Homo sapiens: one gene and its partners. The protein of the gene in region 1 binds, or shares a complex with, the protein of each later gene. Links are inferred from orthologs where the notes say so. Each region holds a gene or a part of one and is shown in the gene's direction. Other genes may lie near its edges. The genes, in order: ARHGEF7, PAK1, SHANK1 and ITCH.

Evidence for each region.
Region 2: the proteins of ARHGEF7 (region 1) and PAK1 are in contact, whole or in part, in an NMR structure (PDB 1ZSG), measured with the Homo sapiens proteins. Residues at the interface, in NP_001106983.1 of Homo sapiens: Lys192, Phe193, Phe195, Thr198, Asp201, Glu202, Glu217, Gly220, Trp221, Trp232, Pro234, Ser235, Asn236, Tyr237; in NP_001363202.1 of Homo sapiens: Thr185, Pro186, Pro188, Val189, Ile190, Ala191, Pro192, Arg193, Lys198, Arg203, Ser204.
Region 3: the proteins of ARHGEF7 (region 1) and SHANK1 are in contact, whole or in part, in a crystal structure (PDB 3L4F), measured with the Rattus norvegicus proteins. The link is inferred for Homo sapiens from one-to-one orthologs. Residues at the interface, in XP_063131056.1 of Rattus norvegicus: Asp735, Ala737, Trp738, Asp739, Glu740, Thr741, Asn742, Leu743; in NP_113939.2 of Rattus norvegicus: Gly673, Phe674, Gly675, Phe676, Val677, Leu678, Arg679, Gly680, Ala681, Lys682, Phe696, Glu703, His735, Arg736, Val739, Ile742.
Region 4: the proteins of ARHGEF7 (region 1) and ITCH are in contact, whole or in part, in a crystal structure (PDB 5SXP), measured with the Homo sapiens proteins. Residues at the interface, in NP_001106983.1 of Homo sapiens: Phe193, Phe195, Thr198, Asp201, Glu202, Arg215, Glu217, Glu218, Gly219, Gly220, Trp221, Glu223, Thr230, Trp232, Pro234, Asn236, Tyr237; in NP_001244066.1 of Homo sapiens: Arg252, Pro253, Pro254, Arg255, Pro256, Arg258, Pro259, Pro260, Pro261, Pro262, Thr263, Pro264, Arg266.

Annotation. Positions count from the first base shown.
Region 1 is NC_000013.11:111,110,389-111,118,311, forward strand, and holds the start of ARHGEF7 (rho guanine nucleotide exchange factor 7), read left to right. Parts: upstream 1-4,921; 5' UTR 4,922-5,138; coding exon 5,139-5,303; intron 5,304-7,923. UniProt on the Homo sapiens protein: Acts as a RAC1 guanine nucleotide exchange factor (GEF) and can induce membrane ruffling. Functions in cell migration, attachment and cell spreading. Promotes targeting of RAC1 to focal adhesions. May function as a positive regulator of apoptosis.
Region 2 is NC_000011.10:77,331,090-77,338,104, reverse strand, and holds part of PAK1 (serine/threonine-protein kinase PAK 1), read left to right. Parts: intron 1-681; coding exon 682-781; intron 782-1,822; coding exon 1,823-2,019; intron 2,020-5,237; coding exon 5,238-5,375; intron 5,376-7,015. UniProt on the Homo sapiens protein: Protein kinase involved in intracellular signaling pathways downstream of integrins and receptor-type kinases that plays an important role in cytoskeleton dynamics, in cell adhesion, migration, proliferation, apoptosis, mitosis, and in vesicle-mediated transport processes.
Region 3 is NC_000019.10:50,716,794-50,724,572, reverse strand, and holds the start of SHANK1 (SH3 and multiple ankyrin repeat domains protein 1), read left to right. Parts: upstream 1-4,770; 5' UTR 4,771-5,167; intron 5,168-7,610; 5' UTR 7,611-7,653; coding exon 7,654-7,779. Other genes in the region: CLEC11A (C-type lectin domain family 11 member A precursor), read right to left, coding at 1-163, 482-668, 901-1,047. UniProt on the Homo sapiens protein: Seems to be an adapter protein in the postsynaptic density (PSD) of excitatory synapses that interconnects receptors of the postsynaptic membrane including NMDA-type and metabotropic glutamate receptors via complexes with GKAP/PSD-95 and Homer, respectively, and the actin-based cytoskeleton.
Region 4 is NC_000020.11:34,358,837-34,366,284, forward strand, and holds the start of ITCH (E3 ubiquitin-protein ligase Itchy homolog), read left to right. Parts: upstream 1-4,436; 5' UTR 4,437-4,513; intron 4,514-7,448. UniProt on the Homo sapiens protein: Acts as an Acts as an E3 ubiquitin-protein ligase which accepts ubiquitin from an E2 ubiquitin-conjugating enzyme in the form of a thioester and then directly transfers the ubiquitin to targeted substrates.

The DNA of each region.
Region 1 (7,923 bases):
TTGGCAAGCAAATTTGTCCTCTTCCCAAAAGGGGAACAGTATATCTACTTTCCAAGGCTGTTTGCTTTAAAAGACTTTTGAAAATATAGTCTGCAACAAAAGCTGTCATTACCTCTGCTCAGATATTCAGAAGTGGAAGAGACTCATGGAGAAAGGTCTCCCAAGAATTCCAAAAAGAGAAATTAAGAAGAGGGAAATAAGAAATTGAAATGTATCAAATGTGTTTTTCAAAGTCTGTGAATTCATAATGGTATTCAGAAAAATCACTGGTCTCCTCTGCAGGATGCTGGAGCACCAACTCGTGATGCTGAAAAGTGGTAAACAATGGAAAATGAGTGAGCATTTATCTTGCCTTTCCTGTAGGAACTACGTTTCAGAGTACACATATAGCTGATAAAGAACAGTACCTCTTGCAGAATTCTAGCTGAAATATAACTGAAGGACTTATCAAGATATGGCAATTCTGAATGAAACACTGAATCTAGTAGGAATTATGAATAGTTGCTGAAGCAAATAGATGATGATGGGTGGAATCATAATGGATGGATCTGGATAGTAACACCAGAATGCACCAATCGATCCTGCATCACAGAGATCCCAGGACACCACGTTCCTTCTGAGTGATGATAGTAAGTTCCACTTCCCCTTCCTCTCATGTAATATTTCTGGGGCAGGGTCCTGATTTCTCAAAGGGCACTATTGGGAGTAAAATTGTCCACCAAAAGATATGTTGAAATCCTAACTCCGAGTACCTGTAAATGCAACCTTATTTAGAAATAGGTTCTTCACAGATACAATCAAGCCAAGATGAGGCCATCCCAGATCAGAGTGGGTCTTCACCCAGTGACTAGCATGCTTATAAGAAGAGAGAAATTCAGACACTGACACAGAGAGGGAGAAAAGTCCATGTGAACACAGAGGCAGAGATTAGGGCGATTTATACCCAGTACAAGGAGGTTCCCTTGGATGGCTGGCCACCCACAGAAGCTGGGAGAGAAACCTGCAGCAGATTCTCCCTCTGGGCCCCAGAAAGAACCAATCCTGCCCACACCTTCACTTCAGACTTCCAAACTTCAGAAATGGGAGAGAATATATTTCTTTTTATTTGAGCCGCCCAGCTTGTGAGACTTTGTTACGGCCTCTCCCAGAAATGCATAGGCCCCAGTAGGACTGCAGCCCAGGTTCCCGTAGCAATAACCTGCCAACAAGGCAGCCTTGTGTTTAGCTTCTCCCCTTCCCTGTCCCATCGTCCCATTTTCTCCTTTGTGCTTTTCATGGTCACTTCCCAAATAGGCAGCCTGCACTGAAGCCCTGGCTCAGGGTCTGCCTTCGGGGACAGGAGGGGACAAACCAAGGCAGATGGTATCAGAGGGGACCTTGGAAAGCAGATGCCCAGGGGGAGAATCCCAAGACACATCTCTCCCCAGCCAGATGGCACGGCCTTAGGACACTGTGTCAGTCAGCGTTCTCCAGAGAAACAGACCAATAGAATCTCTTTCCATTGACCAACTGATCAATTGGGAGAAAGGGAGACAGAGGGAGGGGAGAGAGACTTATTACAGGGAAGCAGCTCATGTGACTATGGAGGTGGGCACATCTGCTCTGCAGGGGGCCCACAGGCTGAAGAACCAGAGAAAATCCTCCCTTACTTGGGGAAGGTCAGTCTTTTTTTCTATTCAGGTCTTCAACTGATTAGATAAAGCTCACCACATTGGGGAGGGCCATCTACTTTACTCAAATGTTCATTACATCCCAAAACCCCCTTTCGCAGACACACCCAGAATAATATTTAACCAAATGTCTGGGCACCCTGTAGCCTCGTCAAGTTGACACATAAAACTCACTGTCACAGATGCCATTGTTGATGCGCCATGAGTGGCAATCTCCCACGCCCATTCTGCACCATCACAGTGACTGTGCCGCTCACCTGTGCGGAACTGGCATGTGGAGCAGGTGCGGTGGAAGCGCTGGCTTATGAAATAACGCTAATGCCTGCAGTTGAATTGTCCCCCAAAAGATACGTTGGGCTCTGCTGAATCAGAGGTCACTGGTGGGGGAGCCCTCAATCCAGAGTCCATGGGTAAAGTCAGCCTTCCTGCCCTCTGGCCAGAAGGTGCTGAGACCTGTTCCACTTGTTTCTCAAGGGCCCCCCAGGGGAACAGAGCCCTAGTGCTCATTTTCACCCCTTGACTCCCTTACCTGCTTCACTCCCCTTCCTCACTGTCCTTCCTGGGGTCACTCCCTAGCAAGCCACTTGCACCCAATTTGTGGGCTCAGGGTCTGCTTCTGGGGGAAACCCAACCAGGAGAAGCGTCTTGTTGGCATCATGTTTCATAATATACTATACTGGTCAAATGCTTTCTGATCCTGCATACTCCTCCAGCCATATGTGTTGATAAATTAATGTTTCCTGCCTTGCATCTTTTAATTTTAGCATTTGATCATATTTATCCCAAATGAACAGGACCTTGTTTCATACAATAACACACAGCAGATACAATGAGCTGCATAGAGCCACTTCGTAGTGCATTCTCCAATCTAGACAGGGTCCAGTTGGATAAGGGTAGTTCTACAGGGAGTGATTACTACCCACTCTAGGTAAATGGTCATCTGATTGTCCAGCTTAAGTTTGGAGTGAATTTTGCCTTATTTTTTAGATTTTGGCATTTTTATAGTGACCCCACACACGCTGAGTTGGCAGGGTTCAGCTGAGCTTTGGGTGGTAACTGGTTTGCAGTAGGGTTTGTGCGTGAACTCCTAACAGTGATGTGGAAGGTGCCTACCAGGCACTAGCAAGCAGCCAAGCTGGGTGTGAGGCTGACATTCTCTCATTAGAAACGAAGGAAGCGAAGCCACAGGCTTGCGTGGAAAGCCATTCTCCACCTCTTGAGGCAAGTCCAGAGGAGAGCCACAGAAAGGGCTAAACTTCCCCTTAGACAATAGTCTTAACTCGAGCTAACCCAATAGCCCAAAAGTGATGGGCACCAGATTGCACTCCGCGTGGCCTCTGTAATAGGAACCTGGAAAAGTGCTAAGGAAAGTTTAACCAAAATGCCCACTTTGGATACTAAAACAACTCAATTAAGCACCTAAAAATATCTAGCTTTGAGCAATGTTACTTTCTAAAATCCCTTCCAAGTAAACTCTTTTTCTGAAATTAATAAATACCCAACATAAAAGAACGCAACTAGTAACCATAAAGTGTTTAAAAGTCTGGGCTTCTCCCCACCAAGAAAAGACGAGTTGTAATACCTGGACTGTGGGTCTCCAGTCCGACAAGAATTGGCTCTCTGCTTCACTGGTCTCGTAAGGTCACTCCCTAGAATTGGCTTTCTATAGGACCATTTAATTGAGTCTATTTGAATCTTACTCAAGTCTACCACCTTATAAGTATCAAACCGAATTTAGTAGGATTCGAAATGGTAAGGACTGCATTAAATTATTTCTCTAATTCAGCAGTAAGGAAAGTGAACAGAAGTCTCGGTGTACAACCACGCCCCGGGTTGACATCTTTCCTTCCACGAAGACACTGGGTACAAGCCTTGATGTAGCTGTTAATTGCCCTCCTGTTTCCTAGAAAGCTTATAGGGCAGCAGTAGGAAACGGGTTAGGTATGCCTTTCCTGGTAGGAGCCGAGCTTTGGGTCTTATCTCTGCCACTTGTTCGGCATCTGATCAGTAAAAGGGGACCATGATGGGAGGCGAGGCAGTAGACAGCACTTTGTGACGGTTCCTAACCAGTCGCTGTTATCACTGAGCACATTGTCCTCGTAATCCAGAATTCATACTGCCATTTGAATATTTTTTGTATTTGCAAAGAAAATTTTAACCACTTAACTCAAGGCTAGAAATAAAAGCAATTAGTGATTGCAAGAGAAATCCACCGGCAGAAGGCAGGGGGAGACGACTTAAGCCTCTGATTATTTTTGGAAGCTTTATATGCTTTCTAGCCTTTGTCATTGAATGGATTAATGTATGTGCCTGGCATAGACTAAGTGCTTTGCTTGTTAAACTGCCCGCGGGTCATAGCGAGCAAACTGGGGGAGCGCCCAGGGACAGTGGATGGAGTGAGTGGAGACTCGTGTCCTTTTAAGAAGAGGCTCCATTTCTTCCTCGCATGTCAATGTGTGCGTGTCATCAGTTGTTCGAGGAAGCTCGCGCATGACGCGACACTTGCCGTCTGGGCTCTCCAGGTTCGGCCTGCTGCTTTCACAGCCCAGATCTTCGGCGTCCCCGAGACGCAGCCAGGCGCCCGGCCCGGCCCGGCCCGGCCCTCTGCACAGCCCCACTTCAGGCCACGCCGTTTCCTTGACCTTCCCCCGGCAGGGTCTGAAGCGTCACCGTCCGTCTAGAGCAGAGTCGCGCAGGCCCCTGCCCTGCCGGTGAGGTCGGCGCCGCGCTCCGGAGAGTCGGTTCCTCCCGATTCAGACCCATATGGCTTCAGATGGAACCATCATTTCTGTTCCGTCATGACCGGCTTGCAAGGTAGCAAAGCGAAACAAACGTCTCGTTTTCAGCCTGTCCCCGCCACCTTGAAATAAAACCGGCAAAAATAAAAAGAGCATTCTGGGAAGTACTTCATCATTTCAACGCTCACGAATTCAAAACATAAACAAAGGCTTCCGAGTGCCCCGGCCAGGGGCGCGGGGCGCACGGCGGGCCCGGGGCAGGTAAGCGCAGGTGCGCGCCCGCCCCCACCCCCGGCTCCCTCCCCATCCGCTCCCCGCTCCCCTTCCCCTTTCCCTTCCCCGCCCGCTCCCAGCCGCCGCCGCCGCCCCGCGCACGGCCTGGAGCGGAGGCTGCGCAGGGCGCGGGGCGGCGCGGGCCGGGCGCGGGCCGGGCGGACGGCCGCGTCTTTCTTCTCCTGGCGGTGATGTCATTGGGCGACGGCGGCCGAGGCCGGGGGGCGGCGGCGGGCGCCCGCAGGTTCCCGAGCCGCTCCTGAGAAGGCGCCTGACAGCGGGCCGGGGCGCACGGAGAAGCGGGCCGGGCCGGACCTGCTGGGCCGCGCCGAGCCAATCGCCGGCGCCGGCCGCTCGATGGGCGAGGCGGCGGCGGCGGCGGCGGGGGCCGCGGGCCGGGCCGCCGCTCCGAGGTGAAGGCGCGCGCCCCTCCCCGCCTGCCTCCCGGGCCGCAGCGATGAATTCCGCCGAGCAAACCGTTACGTGGCTCATCACTCTGGGGGTGCTGGAGTCGCCCAAAAAAACCATCTCGGACCCGGAGGGCTTTCTGCAGGCGTCGCTGAAGGATGGGGTGGTCCTCTGCAGGCTGCTGGAGCGCCTGCTCCCCGGGACCATCGAGAAAGTAAGTCCCGGCCCGCGCCCCCGCCCGCGCCCCCCGGTCCGGCCCGCTGCGGCCCGGGATGCGCGCGGAGCACCTGAGGCCGGCCGCGCTCGGGAAACCCGTGCGCCCTCCTTTGTGCGCGGAGCGGCGGCGCGGCCGGCGCCAGGACCGTGGCGGGAGCTCGGGGGGCGCCATTGTGTGCGGGGCAGGGGGAGGGGGCCGGGGAGCGGGGTCGGGGGGAGGGGCGGCGCGGGCGGCGGGGGTCCCCGGGAAGGAGAGTGCACCGCAGCGAGGAGACGGGGCTTCTGCGCCGCCCGAACGCTAAGTTGCCCCTCCGCGTGGGGGGCCGGCCCCGCTCCCTGGCAGCAGCCGCATCGGAAACCGCGTTCCGACGCGGTGCGGCTCACTCCGCTGGCTTTGTGTGGACAGTTCTTGCCGGTGGCGTTGCGTGAGTTTCGCCTCCCAGGTTAATTGACCGGTTGCTCTGTATTTTTAAAGAGGCACGCATCTGTAGCTGAGGGCTGCGCTGTGAAACGATCTACTACTTTCCCCTCGAGAAAATTCCCCACCTATCCGAGCCGAGAGGACGGCAGACACAGGGTCTAAGTCCTGGCACTCTTCAAGGCTTGTTAAAATTCTAGATTTCGTTCTCAGGTCCCTCCCTCGTTCTGAACAGAACCTTTAGTCCTGCAGGCACTGCTTCTCCCTTCCGGCTGGTGGTTCCCAGGCTGGAGCGTGTGAACCCTGACCCGAATCTCTGGAAGTGATTAAAGTTTGTTTTCATCGCCCACAAGCCGGCCAGCAGGGCCGAGGAGGCAGGAGAGTTTCTAAAAACGATGTCTCCCTGTAGCTCAAAATACTAAAATCTTATTCCCAGGGTGTTTCTTCGGGGGGTGGGGTGGGGGTGGGGGTGGCCAATATATAGCGTTAAGATCAACAGTTATTTAAAAGGTGTTAAATATAGAAATTGAAGTGTACCATAATTAGGAAGAAGGATTTCAGTTTTTAAGTGGGGTGTATTGGCCCCCATACAGGATGACAACAACTTGTAAATAAAATGCCACGTAAGTGACTTGAAAAAGTAAAATGTTTAATTTTTTTCATTCACATGTACATATTCTCTTGCTACATTTTAAATGAGGTCAGAAAACATTTTATTTAATATGAATTTGGCTTGCATTCCACTTTTAGCTATTTTTCTTACTTGGAACATCTTTATGAAAACAGAATCTGCATATTAGAGTGAATGGCTGCCTGCCTGTCCATGAAATAAAAATGTTCCTTAAAAATGAACCTGATGTCACAGTGAAATTATGATTTAAGACAGGAGGACTGAGGAGCAGGAGCTGACTTTCAAGGCATTCAAAATACTTTGCTGTTTGGATACTGGTACCTCTGGTAATGAAAGACAGATGTTGAAAAGTGTTGAAATGCATGCAAAGTTCACCAAAATAGGCTTAAATAAAATTCTGTTCCATCCCTAAGAGCAAAGCTTTAAGAAGTGTCATATGCTGTATTGATAAAAACATGTCGCCATCAAAGAATATGTTGTTTGGCATATTAACTGTATTAATATTGATTGGCCGACTTCAATAATCATTTTCTTTTAAATTATAGAAAGATTTTCCTAGAAAACCGTAGCGTTCATTTCATCTCTAAAACAACAAAGAGAAGAACGAATAAAATGTTGAGCTTGCAGAAGCCAAGTTGAAACAACTCAACATATTCTAAAACTACAGTCATCTGGAAATTTCTTAGGTCAGAGCTGTTTTTGATTCCCCCTGAGCTCCAGTTGGTTTGTGTTAAACTGACTCTGTCACAATGAAAGTTTAATGTGAAGGCAGCGTATTGTAGACACAGTTACTGGTTCTCTGGAGTTCAAAGGTAGGTTTTTGGAGTAAAATATTAGCCGTTTTCTGCCTCTGAGATCCCTGTGTTTCAGAAGTTTTGTGAGCTTTTTCCATTTGCTAGGCAGAGTTATCTGGGTTTCTTTCTTTCTTTTCTTTTTCTCTTTCTTTCTTTCTCTCTCTCTCTCTGTCTCTCTCTCTCTTTCTTTCTCCTTCCTTCCTTCCTTCGAGATGGGTTCTTGCTATGTTGGCCAGGCTGGTCTTGAACTCCGGGCCTCAAGGGATTGTCCCATCTAGGCCTCCCAAAGTGCTGGGATTACAGGCGTGAGCCACCACGCCCAGCCAGTTATCTGGGTTTTTGGTGTTTTCATGCTTACCAGATAATCTATGCCACAAAGCACACATGCTGAATAACTTTTACTTAAATGTGGGAATGTGAGTCTGAGGATGTTTTTTCCTTAAAAAGAAGCATTTGGAAACTTAACTGAATGTTCATGTGGACATGACAGGGGCTTCGCTTGACCTCTGCTGCAGGAGTGCCCTGACAGCCAGTGAGCGGAGGGCAAGTGGCCTGCAGCCTTCGCCTCTGCAGGCTCACAACCTGGCATGGGCCATGAGGCTGGGGATGAGGGCAGAACTAAAACGTGGCTGGGTGCCTCGGGCTTCCCATATGTCTTTTATTAAGAAACCATGCCCTAATGTGTTTCTTCCATTACGCTCATTTGTTCTGTTTCAGAGTTAGGAAGAGGGTGGAGGGAGCAGAGAGGACGTTCACGGCGTGTCAGATTCTTCTG
Region 2 (7,015 bases), on another chromosome or scaffold:
ATTGTGTCTCTTTATTACTCATTCTGCCTGCTAAGTATAGGTGTTTTCCAAGATTCTTCTCTTTCTCCTTTACCCTTTGCCGGGTTCAACCATTTTTATAACTTAAACAAAAATCATCTCTTCCCAAATGACTTGTAAATATTTACCATAATTTATCATAAATTAAGTTGCCTACCAGACATTTGTCTTCAGATATCAAATTCAGCATATCCAAAATAGTACAAAATATCTCCTCACCAAAATAAGATTATCCTGCTAACTTACTGCTTCTAGTATCACTTCCATATGTCTGCTTCCTCAAATATGACCCTTATTTGTTGTTTTCCTCTGGTCTGTCATTATAAGATCCTTTCCATTTTTCTTCAGTAATTTCTCTTGGGCCTTAGGTCCTTTACCAAGGATCTAATTAGAAAAAAAATTACATTGGAGGAACTCCTTTACTTAAAAAAACTGTTTTAAGGTGAAAGGCAGCATGGAGTGTTAAAAGAATGTTTAGCTAGGAGATGGAAGACTTGTTTCTAGATCTGGCTCTGCGATTGATTTGGGGCAAGTCCTTTTACTCACTGGGGCCTTACTTCCTTTATTTTAAAGTGAAGAGGTTGAATTAGTGGATTTTCTATTAAGTCTTCTGTATTATATGTATGTCCTTTCTTTCTCCCCCTGCCCACACCACTTCAATAGTGTCTGCAGGCTCTGGAGTTCTTGCATTCGAACCAGGTCATTCACAGAGACATCAAGAGTGACAATATTCTGTTGGGAATGGATGGCTCTGTCAAGCTAAGTAAGTAGGAGCCTTAGGAATGATAATACTTCTCTGCCTGTGGGGCCCTGTCTCCTGTGAGATGGTCATCATATAATAGTAACTACGACACTCACCAAAGGGTCTTTATGATTTCATGGGATATGAGGGCTGTTTTATATTTTCTGTATTAATCATAGGATATCATTTCATTATTTTTTCATTCATTTATACATTTAACAACAACCACAAAAAACTTTGCTGAATGGTTACTCTGTGCTAGGTCCTGTGATGGGCACTGAGAGTAAATTTTCCCTACCTTCTCAATCTAGTATGGAAAACGTGTAATAGATAATTAGAAAAAAGAGTTTTGTATAATTTCTTTCATTCAGTTATTCAGCAAACTTTTATTGAATGTCCAGTACATGCTGGTCCTTCTAGGGATATGAGGACAAGTAAGAGGACATAATCCATACTCTCAAAGGCTTCCTAATTTAAATAAATTTATAATTGCAATATAATGTAAAAACCATGGCAGGTAGAGCATTTTGTTCAAAGGTGTAAAGACCAGTAGACCAGACAAACAGGCTGTGTCATGGGTGGATGGGCAGTTTATGGAAGGACTGCTAGCAGCCCTGGGTCTGGGGCATAAAAACAGGGCCATGCCTAGTCATAGGTGATTGGGGTTTAAATCAAGGACTCGTGCCCAAGGAATAAGACAAGGACCTAGTCGCCAGATTTGGGATTATGGGAATGGTTTTTCAAGAACAAAGCAGAATTGGGATGAGCAATCAAGACCAAAATGGGCAGCTTGGACTTTAACACTAAGTCCCCTGGTTTGAGGAGAAGTAGGAGGCCAGAGATGGTGTTTCTTATATTCCTTCTATTTCTCTTCAGGGTTCAATAGGAAATAGGCTAGGAGCTAGACATGAAGGTGGTAGTCAAGTGACTTTGGAGAGACAAAGGATAGCAGAGCTGGAAGCCAGGCGGATCTTGTCACCTATGTGTAGGTACACAGTCAACACTTACTGAAGTGAGTGTATATCCTAAATGTATGTTCTTTCTCTTATTTTTCTTTTCTAGCTGACTTTGGATTCTGTGCACAGATAACCCCAGAGCAGAGCAAACGGAGCACCATGGTAGGAACCCCATACTGGATGGCACCAGAGGTTGTGACACGAAAGGCCTATGGGCCCAAGGTTGACATCTGGTCCCTGGGCATCATGGCCATCGAAATGATTGAAGGGGAGCCTCCATACCTCAATGAAAACCCTCTGAGAGTGAGTGTTACCAGTTCTATTTCAAGTTATTTGGGCTGTTGTCTCTAGTCCCAGGAAATAAGAATCCAGGGTGTTCTCTGTGGTTTTCAACCTGGAGATCCCTTTTCTGGATACAACTAGTCACTGTTGAACTTAAAGTATAAATGGCCAAAGAAAAGGAATATTAGAAGTCACTCATTCATTTATTCAACAATTATTTGAGTCCCTGTCAAGTGCAAGAAACTATTCTAATGAAAATAAAATAAATTAATATGTAGTAACAGATGGTAAATGCTGTGAGAAAAAGCAAAGTAAGGGAGTTAACAGAGTAATGGAGGAACAGGTGTGCTATTTTAGAGTAGAGAGGGAAGTTCTCTCTTATAAGTTATTTTATTCTGCAGAGTTGGGAAGTCATTAGAGGGTTTTGAGCTGAGGAGTAATGTGATCTGATTTATGTTTTAAACAGATCATTTTGGCCGCTTTTATGGAAAATAGACTGCGAGAGACTGTTGTAATAGTTCAGAGTGGTGGTGTCTTGGTAGGAGTGGAAGTGAGAAGTGGTCAGATTCAGGAAATTAAAGGACTAGCTGACAAGATGAACTGAATATTAGAGAAAGAGGAATCAGCAATGACTACAAGATTTCTGGTCTGAATTGCTGAAAAAATTCAGTTGCCATCTGTTGAAATGGTGAAGAGCATACTTAAGTTGGGTAATAAAGAGTTGGTTTTGAATGTGCTGATTTGAAGTGTTAATTGGACATTTAAGTGGAGCTGGAGTAGAGTTTGGCTTAAGAGTCTGGAGTTCAAGGGTGAGAAGTCAGGACTATAAACATAAATTTATTAGTAGATAATATATAGTTGGTATATATAGTAGGTAGATGAGATCACTCACCTAGGGAATGAGTACAGTTAAAGAAAAGAGATTTGAGTACTGAGCTCTAGGTTATTCCACTGTTTACAGGTTGGAAGAACTAGCAAAGTAGACCAAGGAGTGGCCTTTCTAGTGTGAGAGAACAGAGAAGTGTCTTGGAGGTGAAGTGTCCTGGAGATGAAGAGAACAGTGTGCTTCCCGAAGGAGGAGGAGGGTAGATTATGTGTCAAATGTGATTGATAGGTTAAGATGAGACTGAGAAATGAACATTGGATTTGCCAATGTAGAGGTTCTTAATGACCTTAATAATCAGTTATCAGTAGAGAGATGGGGATGAAAGTCTAATTAAATTCATGAAAGTGGAAGAAGAGGACATTGAGATGGCATGTATAAACAGGTTTTTTTTTCTCTTAAAGGAATTTTGCTGGGAAGGGTAACAAAAATGGAGCACTATCTTAAAATGGAGTCAAGGGAGGGTTTTTCTAAAAGATGATGTCTGTGTGCTAATGGGAATGATTTAGTGGAGAGGAGGAAAATGGTCATGTACAAGAAGGAAGTGACAACCATAGAAGTGATATCCTTAAGTCGATGAGAGGGGTTCGATCAAGTACTGAAGTAAAGGACATTAGATTAGCATGGACAATTTATCCCTTGTAACAGAGCATCTCAACACAGGTGCAAATAGGTTGGTAATCTTGGTGTGGGCAAATGTGAAATTTATTCTGATTGCTTTTATTTTCTCATTTATTCCCACCTCCCATCCAGTGCAGGAATTCCCTGTGCACTGTTGCTGGTAGGTGGTCATCTACATGCTCATGTCATCCTTGAATATCTCTGATTATTGGAAATTGCTTCAGTGCACCAAACTGAAACTACCTTCTGTAGTTTCTATCCTTTGATCCCAGCTTTGCCTCTGACTCCACATACAACATACTCTTCCCTCCCTTAGAACGGCCTTGCAGATATTTGAAGATGATAATTGCTGGGATATGTTGGAAATAAGACAGAATGATCCTAGACATAGGCATATTTTTTTATTTTTTTATTTTTATTTTATTTTTTTTTTTGAGATGGAGTCTCACTCTGTCACCTAGGCTGGAGTGCAATGGTGTGATCTCAGCTCACCGCAACCTCCACCTCCCAGGTTCAAGCGATTCTCCTGCCTCAGCCTCCTGAGTAGCTGGGATTACAGGCACCTGCCACCATGCCCAGCTAAGTTTTGTATTTTTAGTAGAGACCACATTTCGCCATATTGGTCAGGCTGTTCTCGATGGTCTCGAACTCCTGACCTCAGGTGATCCACCCACCTCAGCCTCCCAAAGTGCTGGGATTACAGGAGTGAGCCACCACGCCCGGCCCTAGACATATCTTTTTATGTTTCCGGACCCTATCTGTGAAGTGAAGATGATAAGTCTTGCCCTATTACCCAGAGTTAATTGTGGCCATTAAATTAGACAGTGCTTATGTAAGTACTCTTTGAATTAAGTGCTGAGTGCTTGTAAAGATTTAGTCTTACTGTTTTTCTTTACCTTTCCCAGGAGACGCTTCATTTAGGGGACTAGGGTGGCAACAGTTTTCACTTACATTTAATATTCCTTTCCTGCTAGAAGAGATCAGTTCTTGGATGACTGAGGTGAAGGCACCAGGAATAATTTCTGCCAGCAGCTGGGCAGATGTTTAACTCAACAGGCTAAATGGATAATAAACCCTTCAGATGTGTAAGCAAGAATAATAATAAAGCCAGGCACAGTGACTCACGCCTGTAATCCCAGCACTTTGGGAGGTTGAGGCAGGAGGATCACTTGAGTCTAGGAGTTTGAGACCAGCCAGGCCAACATGGTAAAACCCCGTCTCTACTGAAAATACGAAAAGCAGTCGGGTGTAGTGGCTGGTGCCTGTAATCCCAGCTACTTGGGAGGCTGAGTCAGGAGAATTGCTTGAACCTGGGAGGTGGAGGTTGCAGTGAGCCAAGATCGTGCCACTGCACTCCAGCCTGGGCGACAGAGCAAGACTCCATCTCAAAAAAAAAAAAAAAAAAAAAGAAGAAGAAGAATAAACCCTTAGGTCTGTAACATATTTCATAAGTTTACAAAGTACTTTCAAATACACTATCTTATTTTATTTTTACAGACATGTGAGATGGGCATTATCATCATCCCTACTTTACAGACAGGGAAGTTGTACATAGTCCCATGGCCTTTAAATGTTCAACCTGATCCTTAGGTCATACTCTTTCCAGTATATATACACAGCTGCTACTTTGCATCCTAGAGCATAAAGCAGCTGACCATATTTCTAGAACTTGTATATGGGGAACAAGAGAGAGCCTCATTTGGAGCTCAAGGTGATTCACCATTTTTATTGCCAGGCCTTGTACCTCATTGCCACCAATGGGACCCCAGAACTTCAGAACCCAGAGAAGCTGTCAGCTATCTTCCGGGACTTTCTGAACCGCTGTCTCGAGATGGATGTGGAGAAGAGAGGTTCAGCTAAAGAGCTGCTACAGGTAACTGTCCTTATGCAGGGAAGCACCTAATTCAGGGAATCACTAAACCAGGCCTTTTTTACTTCATGTTTGTAAGGTACTGGATATTATAGAACTAGGCTTCTCTTCTACCACTTCCTACACTCACTCTGTTCCTACTGCCCTTTTATCCCTGGGCCTTTGCTCATTTATTTTCTTAGCCTTTCTCAGCCTGTTAAAACTCTACACGTTCTCCTAGGCTCAGTTTACAATCTATTTTCTGAGCACCTATTGAGCTTTGCTTGTAGCTTTTTTGCTTGCTTCCTTCCTTCCTTTCCTTTCTTCTTCCTTTCCCTTTCCTTCCCTTCCTTTCCCTTCCCTTCCCTTCCCTTCCCTTCCCTTCCTTTCCCTTCCCTTCCCTTTCCCCCCCCTCTTCCCTCTCCCCCTTCCTCTCACGCCCCACAGGGTCTCACTCTGTCACCCAGGCAGGAGTGTGCAATGGCGTGATTTTGTCTCACTGCAGTCTTCCTCTCCTGGGTTCACTCAAGTGATCTTCCCACCTCAGCCTCCCAGGTAGCTCAGACTACAGGTGCACGCCACCATACCTGGCTAGTTTTTTAAAAACTTTTTTGTAGAGACGGGGTTTTGCTATGTTGGCCGTGCATGGTCTCAAATTCCTGGGTTCAAGCGATCTGCGCACTTCGCTTTCCCAAAGTGCTGGGACTACAGGCATGGGCCACCATGACCAGCCTGCTTGTATCTTTCATTAGCACTTCCTTTGTTCTGTTTGAATTAGTCTGGCAGAGTTTGTTTGAGTCTTGTTGAGAAACGGGTCTCTGACACCCAAATCTTACACAACTTATATTTTGCTGGGATTAGCTCAAAGGATACATTTTTAGCAAAGGAACATAAGTTTATTTTATTTTATTTATGTTTTATTTTTCTTTCTTTTTTTTTAATTCTTTTTTTTTTACATTTTATTATTATTATACTTTTAAGTTTTAGGGTACATGTGCACAACGTGCAGGTTTGTTACATATGTATACATGTACCATGTTGGTGTGCTGTACCCATTAACTCGTCATTTAGCATTAGGTATATCTCTTAATGCTATCCCTCCACCCTCCCCTGACCCCACAACAGTCCCGGGTGTGTGATGTTCCCCTTCCTGTGTCCATGTGTTCTCATTGTTCATTTCCTACCTATGAGTGAGAACATGCAGTGTTTGGTTTTTTGTCCTTGCAATAGTTTGCTGAGAATGATGGTTTCCAGTTTCATCCATGTCCCTACAAAGGACATGAACTCATCATTTTTTATGGCTGCATAGTATTCCATGGTGTATATGTGCCACATTTTCTTAATCCAGTCTATCGTTGTTGGACATTTAGGTTGGTTCCAAGTCTTTGCTGTTGTGAATAGTGCCACTATAAACATACGTGTGCATGTGTCTTTACAGCAGCATGATTTATAATCCTTTGGGTATATACCCAGTAATGGGATGGCTGGGTCAAATGGTATTTCTAGTTCTAGATCCCTGAGGAATTGCCACACTGACTTCCACAATGGTTGAACTAGTTTACACTCCCACCAACAGTGTAAAAGTGTTCGTATTTCTCCACATCCTCTCCAGCACGTGTTGTTTCCTGACTTTTTAATGATCGCCATTCTAACTGGTGTGAGAT
Region 3 (7,779 bases), on another chromosome or scaffold:
CGACCCTGCGCCTCCTGCAGGGCTTGCACGGCATCGCGGGTGTCGCCTGCCGCGTTCCGCAGCTGCCGCAGCCCCTGGGTCAGCTCGACCACGCGGGTGTCCAACGCGTGCAGACGGACGTGCAGCTGGTGCAGGCCTGCGTCCAGGCCGGCCAGGCGGCCCACTGCGGACAGACAGGGATCATGCTGGAGGGGGAGCCTGGAGATGCAGCGGGGGGCCTGAGGACCTGGAGAACTGGGATCTAGGGCTCCTGAGGGCGGGGTGGCGGTGGGGGGGGCACCCCGGACTCCTGGAAGGTAGGGTCGAGTGGCCCAGGCCTTTAGGAGGCATGGCCGTGGACCTGGGGCTCCTAGGGGTGTGGGGGCTCTGGGCTGGGCAATGGACAACTGAAAGGCCACTTGGCAGTGAACCGACCCTTCATTTTTGCGAAAGTGACCGCGGCGGCCTAGGAGTTTGGGGGTGAGGGCTTCTGGTTACTCACGGATGTAAGTGACGATGTCCTCAGGGGTGGGAGAGGGGCTGGGGCCGGAGGATGGGGTTGGCGTTGCTTCCTCCTCCTCTTCCTCCCCCTGGTCCTCCTCCATCTCCCAGTCCTCTTTTCCCTCAACAGTTCCGGCAGGATTCTCATCCCCCCTCCCAGCAGGCAGTCCTAGGGCTTCCTGCAGATGCTGGGGCAGGGGAGGGGTGGTGAGCCCCAGCCTGCCACCAAGATGCCCCATTCACCCCTTTCCAACTCATAACTCATTCTCTGCTGCCTGAGTCCTGTCTCTGAGCCCATCACCCTCCCACTCCTCTGAGACTATCCCAATCGCTCCTCATTGTCCATTTCCCTAACCTTGCAATACCCCCTCCCAGACCCACAGTTCACCACCCATAGCTCCCTGACACTCCAGAGCTCACCTTCAGCATCAGGGCCTCCCTCTCCCGCTCCTCCTCCTGGGCACCTCCCCAGCCTCCCTCCCACTCCCTCTCTGCTCCCCGAGCCCCATGGCCAAAGCCCAAGAGCTGGGGGACCACCAAAGCCCCCAAAAGCCAGGCTGCCTGCATTAAGCTGGACTCTTGGCACCCAAAGTTCCAGATGTCTGGATGTCTGGGGTGGGAGGGGTGGCCTCTGGGAACTGCCGAGTGCCCCTGCCCTGTGTGCAGGTCACTAGCCCCCAGGTTCCCGATTCTCCCAGCTTCTCTCTTCCTGTTCCTCTCCTCGTCTCTGTCCGGTCCGTTGGTCTCCTCTGCTTCTCTGTGTGTGTCTCTCCCCGCCCCTCTTGGCTCCCCGGAGGCCCTGCCTCTGTGGCCGGAAACCTCCAACGTTCCAAAGCCTAGATCCCGCCTTGGGTCTCCTCGCACACCCTCCTCTTTCCACTTTCCAGAGCTCGCTTCCGCCCTGCTCTTTCCTTCTGCTGTAGCCCAAAGATCAGATAATCAGGAAGAGGATGGAGCTGGCTCTCCAAGGAATCTTGGAAAACACAGGCCCCGGCCTCAGCCCAGGAACCCGCTCAGAACCATCTCGGCAGTGGTGGGATGCTGGGACCGAGCACTGCTCCCTTCTTCCCTGCCTGGCCATTCCTAAGGAGGGGCAGACCTCAGGGTCTCGCTGAGGTTGTTATTACCCTGTGGCCACCATCGCCTGCACACTCAATGGAGGAGACTCCAGGGCCCCTCCTGCCCCCTAGATTGCCCATCCTACCCTCCAAGCCCTTGTCTGGAGATCCAAGTGAGTGTGTGTGGGGGCAGGGTGACACATGTGAAGAGCACGCGTGTGACTGTGTGCATGACCCTGGAAGACGGGGCTCGGGGATTAATTGGCCACTTTACTAGAAGCCTCCTGCAGGCCAGGCTGTGGGCTGGGTGATGCTGGGGACTCCAGCTGCTTGCAGACCAGCAGCCAGATAGCTCCGGGGATGAGGGGGCTGGAGATGGGAGAGGGTGAGGAGTCTGGCGGAGCAGTCAGGGAAGGTTTCTCCAGGAGGTGAAATCGACAGACGCTAGGTTGTGTGCTCAAGGAGCTCTGAGCATTCAGCAAGCCACCTCATTTCAGCCTGGACCACTGCAGTCTCGCCCTCCCCCTCCTTCCTCCTGAGCCCCTCCAATCCCGGCTGCTTGCCGCAGCCAAAGCAATCCTTCCAAACCATAAATCAGATCACATCACTCCCCACTCCCCTGCTCCCCCACCTTCCCATCATAAGCAGGAGGGAAGCCAAGCCCGGGCCTCAGTCCTCAGCGCAGCCTACCATGCTGGGGGCTGGGAAGGAAGAACCCTTTGCACCTCTGCAGCCTCATCACCCCCATTCCCTTCACCCACCCCCAGCCTCCACCTTCCCTGGCCTCTTGGCTCATCCCCAAATACTAAGCTGATTACAACCTCAGAGCATTTGCACTAGCCCTTTCCTCCTTCTAGAAGCCTCTTTCCCCAGCTCCTTCTCATCATCGAGGTCTCAGCTCCAGGAGGTCTTCCCCAACCACCTTATCTATTCCGCAAGTTACTTTATTAAAATGCCCCATTTCATCTTTTTGGTATAATCAAGACTGGCATGATCTTGTTTGTTTATGTCTGTTCCCTGCCAATGAAAGCAGGGATTTTTATGCACTGATGCATCTCCTAGCACAAGGCCTACCTAGCACATAGTAGGTGTTCAATCAACCTGTTGAGTGGGCGAGAGGGTAGCCGTTCCTGGTGGGGTCAAAGGCCTGGAAGCTTCACCTCTTTGGTTTGCTGGCACCCAAGTTCCCAGGGTGGTGGTGGCAGGGTAGGTAGAGGTGGTGAGGGCAGTGGGAGAGAGGCTTGGAGGCAAGGAAGAACAATGCCATGCCATGCCCCTCTATGTCAGGCCCATGAGTCATGCAGGGCTTTTCCCGCCCAGGCCTGGCTGGTGGTGCCAACAAGCATGGGGCACACCAGCCAAGGATCACTGGGCCTGCTCTTCAAAGGAGGAGACCGAGGCTCTGAAACAGCATAGCCTGCTGGAGGTCACCAGTGTGGCGGCAGCTAGCCAAGGTTTCTGGCTCCAAGAGCAGGGCATCTGCCCTCGGCTGCCGGGAGCCCCAGGAGGGGCCTTGGAAATCAGTGCCTCCAGCCTTCCGTTTTCCAAGAAATCCTGGTACATCGAGGGCACTGTGACCTTGGGCAGACTGCTCCCTGCCTCAGAGCCTGGGCCTCTCAGGTGCCCATCGGGAACCTGGGGCCCCTCACCAGGAGCTACAGACCTCAAGAAATAATGCGTATGTGGGGAAAGGCCTTGTAAAGTGTGCAGGGGTGCACAGCCTCTCTGGCTGCTGGAGCCAACATGGGCAGCTGTGCTTTCCCCGGGCCCAGCTGCTCACCACCTGGGCTAGTGGGTACGCATCAAGATAGAGGCCTCCCCAGGCTGAGCAGGCACCTCCTCCAGCTCATACTCGGGTACCCCGGAGAGCCTGCAGCTGGAGGGGAACCCAGAAGCTGCCTAGAACTGCCCCCTGCAGGCCCTGGAGGTGCTGTTGGAGCTGGGAGAATGAGGAAGCCTGGGCTAAGGGGACACTCACCACTCACTGCTGCCCTGTGGGATCTGCTCTGTCCCTGTGGGTGCGTCCCAGGCATGAATGAGCTGTCTGCCTGCAGCTGGCTGCATATGCGTGCCTACACAGACATGTGCAAACTCTGAGGAGACGGTTGGGTGTGTCTGTGTGTGATGAATAAGGATATGCAACTATGAGGGGATATGCCCAGTAGTGCACCATAGTTGTCAAGTGAGGACTTTGGAGCCAGCCTACCTGTTCCTGATCCTTGTTACCACCTCCTTACAGCTGGATGACCTTGGGCAAGTTACTTAGCCTCTCTGTTCCTTGGTTTCCCCCTCTGGAAAATGGGGATGGCGAAAGTCCCTGAGCCTGGCACACAGAAAGTGCTCCAGGAATGTCAGCAGTAACTATCCTGGAGGGGAAGGATGGCACGGTGTTGGGCATGTAAACGGGTGAGTGCGAGCCAGTGCAATGGACAGCACGGTGGGTGGGTGTGATGGGAAGGCGTGCACACGTCTCTACAGTGCTGTAACTCCGTTTTGGTGTTGAGAGATCTGGGCATGCATACCGGGGTGAACGCCTGTGTGCGTGTGTGCGCGCGCACGTGCGTGTGTGGTGGGCAAATGTGTGCATGTGCTGCGTGTGTGCCCGGGCACAGGGGTGTGACAACTGCATGTAGCTGGGTGTGTTTGTAGCTGTGTACCCCAGGTGCATTGTGTCTGGGCATGCATGCGCTGGAGAGTGTGTGTATGTGGGGACTCTGCAGGTGCCGTTACAGCTGGTGACTATGCACCTGTGCCTTGGGGAAATGTGGCCTGGCCCAGGTATGTCCACGTGTGCCCTGACCCAGTGCTTAAATGGAAAGGGTGTGTGTGTGTTTGGGGGGACAGGGTGGGAATCTATAGCCTTCACACTTAAATTTGGGGGTGTAGAGTCTGGCAACAAATATTTATTGTGCCCCACTCTGTGTAGGGCGGCGGGGAGCTCTCTGGGAGGGGGTGGTCCTGAGGTGTGTGTGGGGGGGCACCTTATGGGGGCAGGACCCCTTCCTCGGGGTATGGGAGCAAGCAGGGGCGGAGTCAGGATTTGGGGACTCGGAGGTGGGGAGGAGTGGTGGGGGAGGGCAAGGGTAGGGGGCGGAGCCGGCGGTGGTGGGGGATGGGCGAGGTTTGGGGGCGCGGGGAGGGGCGATGTCTCCTCCGCCGGCTCCCGGAGGGAGGGGAGAGGGCGGAGGGAGGGGAGGGAGGGAGAGAGGGAGGGAGAGAGACAGGGTGAGGGAGAGACAGCGAGAGCGAGAGAGCGAGAAGGGTGGCAGAGGAGGCGCGGAGCGGGCGGCGGCGGCGGCGGCCCGAGGAAGAGGAGGAGGAAGAGCAGGCGGAGACGCGGCGCCCGGAGCCGGCCGGACCGAGCCGGGGGCGGGCGAGGAGGGGCGCGGCGGCCGCGGCGGAAGGGGGGGCGCTCTGCGGATGGCCAGGCCCGGCCCGCGGGGGGGGTGAGGTCCTCGGCCCTCCCGCCCTCCCCCCCGGTCCCCGCCCGCCCCCTCCCCGGGCCCGCTCGCCCTCCGGGGCGGTGGGGCATGGCCTGAGGGTCCCCGTCTCCGGGGGGGTGGGGGGTGGGGGGAGGGGGGAGGGGCCGCGGGCGCCGCCGACCGGGACTCAGCAGCCCCGCCAGGCAGGTAAGGGGGTCGAGAACCTGGGGGTTTGGGGCAGCTGCGGGGCCGGGGCCGCGGGAGGGGGCGAGGGCGCCCCGGATGTCCTTGGCCCGGCGCCGGGCTCCTGGCCTGGGTGTGCGGCTGGGGGTACGGGTGAGGTGGGGAGCGTTGCCCTGGGCGACACCAAATTGGGTTACGCCCGGGTCCCCGGTGCCCCGTCCCAGATCGCATCCTTGATGGGAGGGCGCGCCCCCCACCCCCGGCCAGCAGAGCCCCTATCCCGAACCCGCCTCCCGGCTCTCCGGGGCCAAGGGCTCGGTCCTGGTACCCGCCTCCCCGCCCAGCCCGGCCACTCCCCCGCCTCGCCCTCCCTGGCGTACCTGGGCCCCTCCGCCAGGTCACCCTGGTCCCCACTCCCCTCCAGCGAGGGTCTAGGCCCGGGCCTCCTCCGCCCCTTTCGACCCCTCCAGCTCCCGCTTCTCCTTCCAGGCTCCTCCAGTCCCTTTCCACCCCTGTCCAAGCTCCCTGCGTCCCCACCAGGTCTCCAGTCCCTACACCGCCGGCCGGCGCGCCCCCTCGGCTCCCGCCCCCGACTCCTGCTCCCCGGTGCCCCCCGCCCCTCTCCCCGGCCGGGTTCTCCCCCACCAGTTTCCCAGCCTCGGCTCCGGCTCTCTCTCCCCGCCCCTCCCCGCCTCCCTCCGCCTCCATTCATTCTCCCCGGCCCCGCTCTCGGCCACGCCAGCCGCCCCCTGTCCCCCCACAGCCTCCCAGGGCACCCCCTCTCTCGCGTCCTCCACCACCCCCCTCGCCGATTCCTCAGCCCGTCTCGGTACCAGCTGCGTGCCAGCTATTCTTAGCCGCGGAGCGTTTGATTCATGCCGCCCCGGCGGAGCGTGCCCGCTCCCTCCCGCGAGCCCTGAGGGGGAGGGGCCGGAGCCGGCCCGGGGGGGCTGGGGCAGCCGTACGCGCGGGGGGCCCTAGCCAGCTTTTCTTTCATCCCACCGGCCACCCCCTCCGAGCGGGGTTGAGGCTGGGGGTCAGCCAGGGTCAGCCGAGGGGGAGTGTCTGCGGGCCCCAGATCGCGAGGTGGGCTGTGCGGCGGGGCAGGGAGGAGGCAGCCGGGGTCTCCGCAGGGACGAGGTGGGGCGGCGTGGCTGGGTACCTGGAGGGGGAGGGGGCTTCGCAGCGCTGCCGCGCGTGGGGGAGGGGTCCGCCGGCCCTGGGTTAGAGGCTCGCTCGCCCACACCTCCTGGAACTCTCCTCCCACCACACACATTTAGTCTTCCCTTTCCCAACCCCCCAGCCCATCCCCACTCCCCCAAAGTCAGCAGTACCCTCCACTGCTTCCCATCTCCATGGCAACGGTGCAGGAACCGGGCCTGGTGTTGGGGGGAGGGACCAGACCAGACATTCTGGTTTCCGGTGCTGGGGTGGGAGTTGGGGGAGAACAGAAGGGAGGCGGACCCCATTTGGAAGGGGCTCCACCCTCATAAGGCCACCTCAAGGGAGAACAGCAAGGATCTAGAGATGATCCCCCACTCAGTTCCCCAGACCCTCCTCTCACTTCTTAGCCTCCCTCCTAACACCCCCAGTCCTCAGAGTGGAGCCCCTAGTACCCAGCAAGCCAGCCCACCCACCCTGCAGTCCTAGAAAAGAGCTACAGGTCATCTGCAGCCACCCACATCTACCCGGGCCACCACACCACTGTCACCTGGACAGCACTCCCCAGGCCGACCTCCCCACCTACCCGCACACCCTCTCAAGATGCCCCAGTCTCCAAAAGCCACCTCTTGTGGTTCCCTTGGGGACACCCTAGGCCAAATGCTCTGCCCATGACACCCCCATCTCAGTGCCCCTTGCTCCCCTGGGACGGCAGATTCCCCAGCACTATTCGGCATGCCACGCGTTGTCAGCCACACTTGAGTGAAGTCACCAGCTCCACCCGCTCCAGGCTCACCACACCTCCCTCTCCCCCTTACTACATCTCAGTGTCAGCCTCAGCTTCTCCCCAACCCCACCCCCCGGCCCTGGGATGAGGGGCCAGGCTGGGGCCAGGAGGGCAGGATGCCTGTCAGTTTGTCCACCTGTCTGTCCTTAGCTAATTTTAGCTGCATTTTCTGTGGCCTGGCAAAGTGGGCCAGTAGCTCCCGCGGTGATTCTGCGGTTTCTGGGACACGGCCACGCTGGGTCACCAGCAAAGTGGGGCGCAGGGGGCGGGCTGCAAGCGGGGCCAAGGGCAGGGAAGGAGACACATGCCAGAAGCATGTCAGGGACAGGGGTGTGTGCGTGCCAGCGTGGGAGGAGGCGGCAGGGGAGGCCGTGCAGGCCGAGGGTGTGTCCAGCCTCCTTCCTGCCTATCTTGGGCAGTGGGGGTAGGCTGCCCTTGACCGCTTGACCACCGAATAGCGCCTGCGGCCTCTGAGGGGTCCCGGGCTCCTAGTCTGATGGCCGCCCTTGGCCCCTGCAGCCGCCTGTGATGCTGCCGTCCCCCGTCGCCCCGTGGCCCCACAATGACCCACAGCCCCGCGACAAGCGAGGACGAGGAACGCCACAGTGCCAGCGAGTGTCCCGAGGGGGGCTCAGAGTCCGACAGCTCCCCAGACGGGCCAGGTCGAGGCCCCCGGGGGACCCGGGGC
Region 4 (7,448 bases), on another chromosome or scaffold:
GTGAGCCACCACGCTCGGCCTCCTTTACTTTCTTTTTTCTTTTTCTTTTTTTTTGAGATGGAGTCTTGCTCTGTTGCCCAGGCTGGAGTGCAGTGGTACGATGTCGGCTCACTGCAGCCTCCACCTTGCCTCCTGGGTCCTGGTTCAAGCAATTCTCCTGCCTCAGCCTCTGGAGTAGCTGGTATTATAGGCGCACGTCACCACGCCCAGCTAATTTTTGTATTTTTAGTAGAGGTGGGGTTTCACTATGTTGGCCAGGCTGGTCTTGAACTCCTGACCTCGTGATCCACCCCCCTCAGCCTCCCAAAGTGCTGGGATTACAAGCGTTAGCCACCACGCCCGGCCCCTTTACTTTCTTAATAAACTCATTATCGGCTGGGTGCCGTGGCTCATGCCTGTAATCCCAGCACTTTGGGAGGCCGAGGCAGGTGGATCACCTGAGGTCAGGAGTTCAAGATCAGCCTAGCCAACATGGTGAAACTCCACCTCTGCTAAAAATACAAAAATTAGCTGGGTGTGGTGGTGTGCGCCTGTAATCCCAGTTACTCAGGAGGATGAGGCAGGAGAATCACTTGAACCCAGGAGGCGGAGGTTACAGTGAGCTGAGATTGCCCCACTGCACTCCAGCCAGGGTGACAAGAGCAAAACTCTGTCTGAAAAAGAATAATAAATAAATAACTTGTTTTCACTTTATTGTATGGACTTGCCCCAAATTCTTTCCTGCACGAGATCCAAGAACCCTCTCTTGGGGTCTGAATCAGGACCCTTTTCCTGAAACAGTAACACCACCCAGATCAGGGCACAGAACATTATTACCTATCCTGAGAGGTGTCTTTGTGCCTTCTTCCAGGTACACCCTCCCCTCAAAGAGTAACCAGTATCCTGACTTCTAACACCATAGACTAGTTTTGCCTAACCTTACATAGTTTTTAAAATTGTAGGTGAATACAGAATCTGGAGCTACAGGACTTAGGGTTAGATCCCTGGTTCCTGGCTGAGTGATCTTCAACAAGCCATTTAATTTCTGTCACACTCAGTTTTCTTCTCTGTATAATGGTCATAAAAATACCTTGTACTGGCCGGGTGCGGTGGCTCACGCCTATAATCCCAGCACTTTGGGAGGCTAAGGCGGGCAGATCACAAGCTCAAGAGTTCAAGACCAGCCTGGCCAATATGGTGAAACCCCATCTCTACAAAAATACAAAAATTAGTCAGTCGTGGTGGCATGCACCTGTAATCCCAGCTGCTCGGGAGGCTGAGGCGGGAGAATCGCTTGAACCCGGGAGGCAGAGGTTGCAGTGAGCGGAGGTTGGGCCACTGCACTCAAGCCTGGGCGACAGAGTGAGACTCAGTCTCCAAAAAAAAAAAAAGCAAATTCTCAGGCCCTGCCCCAGACCTACTGAATCAGAAACTCTAGGAGTGGCCTCAGCAACCTACAGTTTAACTAACTTTGCAGGCAATTCTGATAAGTACTGAGGTTTGAAAACCACTGCACTAGAGAAACTGAATGAGGATGGGGCGCAGGAATCTGTATTTTAGCAATCTTTCCTAAGGCATGTTGCAGGAAACATGAAGTGGTTTTGAAAGTACTTTGCTTGAGGCTTGAAGGCTTGAACCTAGGAGTTTGATTTTTTATTTTTTTTAGATGGGGTTTCACTCTGTCACTCAGGATGGAGTGCAGTGGCGTGATCTTGGCTCACTGCAGTCTCCGTCTCCTGAGTTCAAGCAATTCTCCCACCCCAGCCTCCCGAGTAGCTGAGATTACAGGGGTGTGCCATGCCCAACTAATTTTTGCATTTTTTTTTTTGAGACAGATTCTCGCTCTGTGGCCCAGGATGGAGTGCAGTAGCACGATCTTGGCTCACTGCAACCTCCGCCTCCCAGGTCCAAGCAATTCTCTGCCTCAGCCTCCTGACTAGCTGGGATTACAGGCACCCGCCACCACGCCCGGCTAATTTTTGTATTTTTAGTAGAGATAGGGTTTCACCATGATAGCCAGGCTGGTCTTGAACTCCTGATCTCGTGATCCGCCCGCCTTGGCCTCCCAAAGTGCTGGGATTATAGGCGTGAGCCACCGTGCCCGGTCTAATTTTTGCATTTTTAGTAGAGATGGGGTTTCACCATGTTAGCCAGGCTGGTCTTGAACTCCTGACCTCAGTTGATCCATCCGCCTCGGCCTCCCAAACCATGCCCAACAAATTTTTGCATTTTTAGTAGAGACAAGATTTCACCATGTTGGCCAGGCTGGTCTCAAACTCCTGACCTCAGGTGATCCACCCGCCTCAGCCTCCCGAAGTGCTGGGATTATAGGAGTGAGCTACTGCGCCCAGCCTTTATGTTTCTTTTGTTGTTTGTTTTTTGAGACAGAGTCTCGCTGAGTCGCCCAGGCTGGAGTGCAATGGCGTGATCTTGGGTCACTGCAACCTCCCCCTCCTGGGTTCAATCAATTATCGTGCTTCAGCCTCCCAAGTAGCTGGGATTACAGGCACCCGCCACCACACCTGGCTAATTTTTGTGTTTTTAGTAGGGAAGGGGTTTCACAAGGCTAGGCGTGGTGGCTCACCCAACTCTACTAAAAATACAAAAATTAGCCAGGCGTGATGGCATGCGCTTGTAGTCCCAGCTACTTAGGAGGCTGAGACAGGAGAATCACTTGAACCCAGGAGGCGAGCGGAGGTTGCAGTGAGCCAAGATTGCGCCACTGCACTCCAGCCTGGGCGACAGAGCAATACTCTGTCTCAAAAAAAAAAAAAAAAAAAAAAAGAGACGGGGTTTCACCATGTTGGCCAGACTGGTCTCAAACTCCTGACCTCAAGTGATTTGCCTGCCTTGGCCTCCCTAACTCCTGGGATTACAGGTGTAAGCCACTGACCCTAGCCAAGCCTAGGAGTCTGAGAACAGCCTGGGCAACACAGGGAGTCCACGTCTCTACAAAAATAAAAACAATTAGGATAGTGTGGTGGCTTGAGCCTGGAGTCCCAGCTACTCAGGAAGCTGAGGTGAGAGGATCACTTGAGCCCAGGAGGTTGGCTGCAGTGAGCTATGATTGCACCGCTGCACTCCAGGTTGGGTGACAGAGCAAGACTCTGTCTCAAAAAAAAAAAAAAAAAAAAAGTCACTTTGAAAAATGTGACTTTCCAGATGGCAAAATACTATTTTCATTAGGAGGAAACAGGCTAAACAGTAATAGCAAAGGTCACTAAGTATTGAGCACTTAGTCATACCTCTGAGTCTCTGCCTGCATAGCCTATTATTTCTCACAAGCAATCCATGAAGAAGGTTAAGACAACGGACTTTCACGCCAGACTGCCTGGGTTCTTATCAAGTATGTGACTTAGTTTATATATTTGTAAAATGGGGATAATAATGGTATTTCTGTAATAGGTTTGTTGTGAGAATAAAGGGAGCTTGGTATCAGCTCTTAGAATACCGGACAGGCCACGTTGGCTCCACTAAGCTGTTGTCATCATCCCTAAGGGCACCCAGTTAAAAGGTAGAAAAGGGAGGATTTGAATCCGGTCAGTGTAACTCTCAAGTGTACATTTTTTTTCTTTTATTTTCTTTTTAACCACGCCCTTTAATGTACATTGTTAAAGGCTAAGCCAGGCCAGGTGCAGTGGCTCACATCTGTAATCTCAGCGATTGGGAGGCCCGAGGAGGGAGTATCGCTTGAGCCCAGGAGCTGGAGACCAGCCTGGGCAACATGGCGACACCGTGGCCCTATTCCCGCCCCATCCCATCCGCACTCCACCCCATCCCCATCTCTACAAAGAATAGAACAAAATTAGTCGGGTGTGGTGGTGCTCAACTGCTGTCCCAGCTACTCAGGAAGCCCAGGTGGGAGGCTCGCTTGAGCCCAGGAGTGTGAGGCTGTAGTGAGCTATGACTGCACCACTGCACTCCAGCCTGGGTGAAGGGTGAGACCTTATCTCAAAAAGAAGAAAAAAAAAGAAAAGGAAAAGAAAAAGAAAAAAGAACAACTAAGTTATAAACTAAGCTATATAGCCCATTGGTTCTCAAATTATGATTTCACTCACTAGCAGTATCACTAGACAGCTTGTTGGACATGCAAATTATCAGACCCTATCCTCCTATGCCAGATCTTCTGATCAGAAACTCTGGGGGTGGGGGTCAGCAGTGTAAGTTTTAATAAGCTCTCTAGGTGATTCTGATGCACACCATAGTTTGAGAATCACAGTCCTTATAGGCTCTGGTGGGCGGGGTGTTAAAAAAAAAAAAAAGCCTGGAGGTGCTGGGAGCCGCTCGCGCCCATCTCACCTGGAGCTGAGGAAAACTGGGATTTAACTGATTTACCACCGCAGCCAGCTCTTCAAGCCAGGGGCGGGCCGGACGGCTGGCGCGCAAGGCCTGCTGGGGCTTGTAGTCTAGACCACTTCCGCGCTCAGGCGCCTGCGCTTTAGCTGCTAACTCGCTCTAGTAGCTGTGGTCGGGGCTCGGGACCGGCTGCCATCTTAGTCTAGGGACTGAGGAGTCGCCGCCGCCCCGAGTCCCGGTAAACCCCCGTGGGCGAACTCGGGGCAGTTCTCGGGAGAGGGAGGGAGTCCGGATGAGAATGTTCGGGGAGAACAAGGGTAGAGGAGTGGGACGCGCGGTTCGGGACCCCAGAGCCGCGGCTGCTCCTTCTTCCAGAGCCGGTGTCTGTCGGGGGCGCGGGGAGCTCGGGCTACTGGCCCGGGCCGGGCGGTGGGGGTGGGCTGTCTGGACGTTCGGAGGGATCAGTGTCTGGCACAGGCTTCCGGAGGCCTTCGCCTCGCGGGCTCCAAGTTGTGAAAGGGCTGGGCCACGACGGGCGTGGGTACCGTCCGGCCCCTCGCCCCTCAGCCCCGCCTGGGGCCACTCTCCAGCGGTTCGGCCTACGCGCGGGGCCCGGCGGCGGGGCCGGCGCGGGCGACGTGGCCCTGTGAGGGGCGGCGGCCGGGTCCCCCGCCACCCAGCTGGCCTTCTCGAGACTTTTCCGAGCCCCCAGTCGCTAGAAGGGCCCAGCACAGCGGCTGCCTCCCCTTCTCTCTCCCACTCGCCTCCTCCTTCCATTGTCCCCCCGGCGTGGTGGTCCCGGCTCCGGCGCCCTCCCCGACGTCCGCCACCGTCGTGGCGGCGCCGACTTTTGCAGACGTGGAGCTGTCACTGCCCTTCCTCCGGAGAGTGCCCTTTTCTTTAGCAGAGAAAAGAAAAAAGTAGCCGTTGAACGTATTCTAAGGGTCGAAGCATGATGACATGACTTTTAAGTGGAGAACTCAAGTTTTCCAAGACAGTTCCCGTCCGCGACAGAAAAGAGAATCGCAGAATTTGTGCGCCCGAAGTAGACGCTGGGCCTAAAGTTAGTTGGACATGTAACCAGGTGAACTTGTAAAGGGCCAGGAATTCATTATCCCCAATAACAACGCAACCTTGTTTTCTTGGTTGTATTCGTATCCTAATCTTATTACATTTTCTGCCATTCTTCCACAGCTACAGTATACTTGGTTTGGAGTGGGGGATGGGGAATTGTGGGATTTTTGCCTTGAAAATTAGTAAGACCCTGGAGCCAGCCACCCACTTAGGTGGGTTCTCCTGCATCTTTTCCTGATAGAATTCGATCTTCAGGAAGTATGTAAAGGCAGTGTATTTCCATTCTCAAAATCGGCTAAGGAATGGTTTATCAGTTGAGGTGAAGTTCTCATGGCAGATCTGCTGAGAGCTTGCTATGTGTATTTACAGGTTTATTTAAGCTACGATTTATTTTTAAAATTAAGAAATGGGCCGGGTGCTGTGTGTGGCTCACGCCTGTAATCCTAGCACTTTGGGAGGCCGAGGCGGGCAGATCATGAGGTCAGGAGTTCGAGACCATCCTGACCAACATGGTGAAACCCCGTCTCTACTAAAAATACAAAAAAAAAAAAAAAAAAATCCTGGGCGTGGTGGCGCGCGCCTGTAGTCCCAGCTACTAGGGAGGCTGAGGCAGGAGAATGGCTTGAACCCGGGAGGTGGAGGCTGCAGTGAGCCGAGATCTCGCTGCTGCACTCCAGCCTGGGCGACAGAGCGAGACTCCGCCTCAAAAAAAAAAAAAAAAAAAAAGCAATGGGATGGGTGTGGTGGCTCACGCCTGTAATCCCAGCAATTTGGGAGGCCGAGGTGGGCGGATTACGTGAGCCCAGGAATTGGAGATCAGCCTGGGCAACATCGTGAAACCCCGTCTCTACAAAAAATACAAAGATTTGCCGGGTGTGGTGGCAGGCGCCTGTGGTCCCAGATACTCAGGAGGCTGAGGTGGGGGAATCACCTGATTCCGGGGGGTCGAGGCTGCGGTGAGCTGTTACCGTTGCCACTGCATTCCAGCCTGGGTGACAGAGTGAGACCCTGTCTCAAAAAATAAAAAAAAAAATTTAGAAATGAAGGTGGAAATTCTACTGCTTCTTTGAACTGTGAATTTAAGTTTTGTGAGTCCAAAAGGAATTCCATTACATTCAGCATACAGGTCAAGTCACCAAGGATATCATATGAAATTAAAAAAATGAGTACAGACTACTTCTTCAGTGTATTCTAGAATCAAACATTTCTACATTCTTTAGAAAAAAATACATCTTTTTCGTTTGTTTGAGACGGAATCTAACTTTGTCACCCAGGCTGGAGTACAGTGGTGTGATCTCGGCTTACTGTAACCTCCGCCTCCCGGGTTCCAGCAATTCTTCTGCCTCAGCCTCCGTAGTAGCTGGGACTACAGGCGCGTGCCACCACTCCCGGTAATTTTTTTGTATTTTTTAGTAGAGATGGGTTTTCACCATATTGGCTAGGCTGCTCTCGAACTCCTGACCTCGTGATCCACCTGCCTTGGCCTCCCAAAGTGCTGGGTTTACAGGCATGAGCCGCCACTCCTGGCCCTAAAAAATACATCTTTTCACTTATTGGGAGAGGCAGACAAACCAGTAGTCCCCAAATTTGACCATTAGAATAATTAGGAGAGCTTAGAAATTCCAGGGTCTTACCTTCTGAGATGGATTTAGTAGGTCTGGGTTGGCTTCAACCAATTTATTTTTAACACATGCCTTAGGTAATTCTGATGGTCTTGGGAACCACTGAGGGCAAATGGTACTGTAGACTTACCAAGGAAAGGTCAAAAAGCTTTGAGACGAAAGAGGAAGTGGCCAATTCTGTGTGTGTGGCTGGGTGGAGGATTGGTTAGAAGAGGCAAGATTTGCCCCTGAACCCACATTGGGTCTTACATGAAGAGTAGGAGTGTGAAAAGGGCGGGGAAAGAGAAGGACAGGGTAGGCTGAGTGAATGCCTTAATGCTGTGTGTAAATTCAGAGGATTATGGAACAAAAAGGGTTCAGGGAGTGTGGAGTGGAATGGGGAAGGAGAGCATTTTGAAACGCAAGGTCAGAAAGGTTAAAGGAAGCAAGTATATGAAAAGTGATTTTTTGTTGTTGAGACTGGGTCTCACCCAGTCA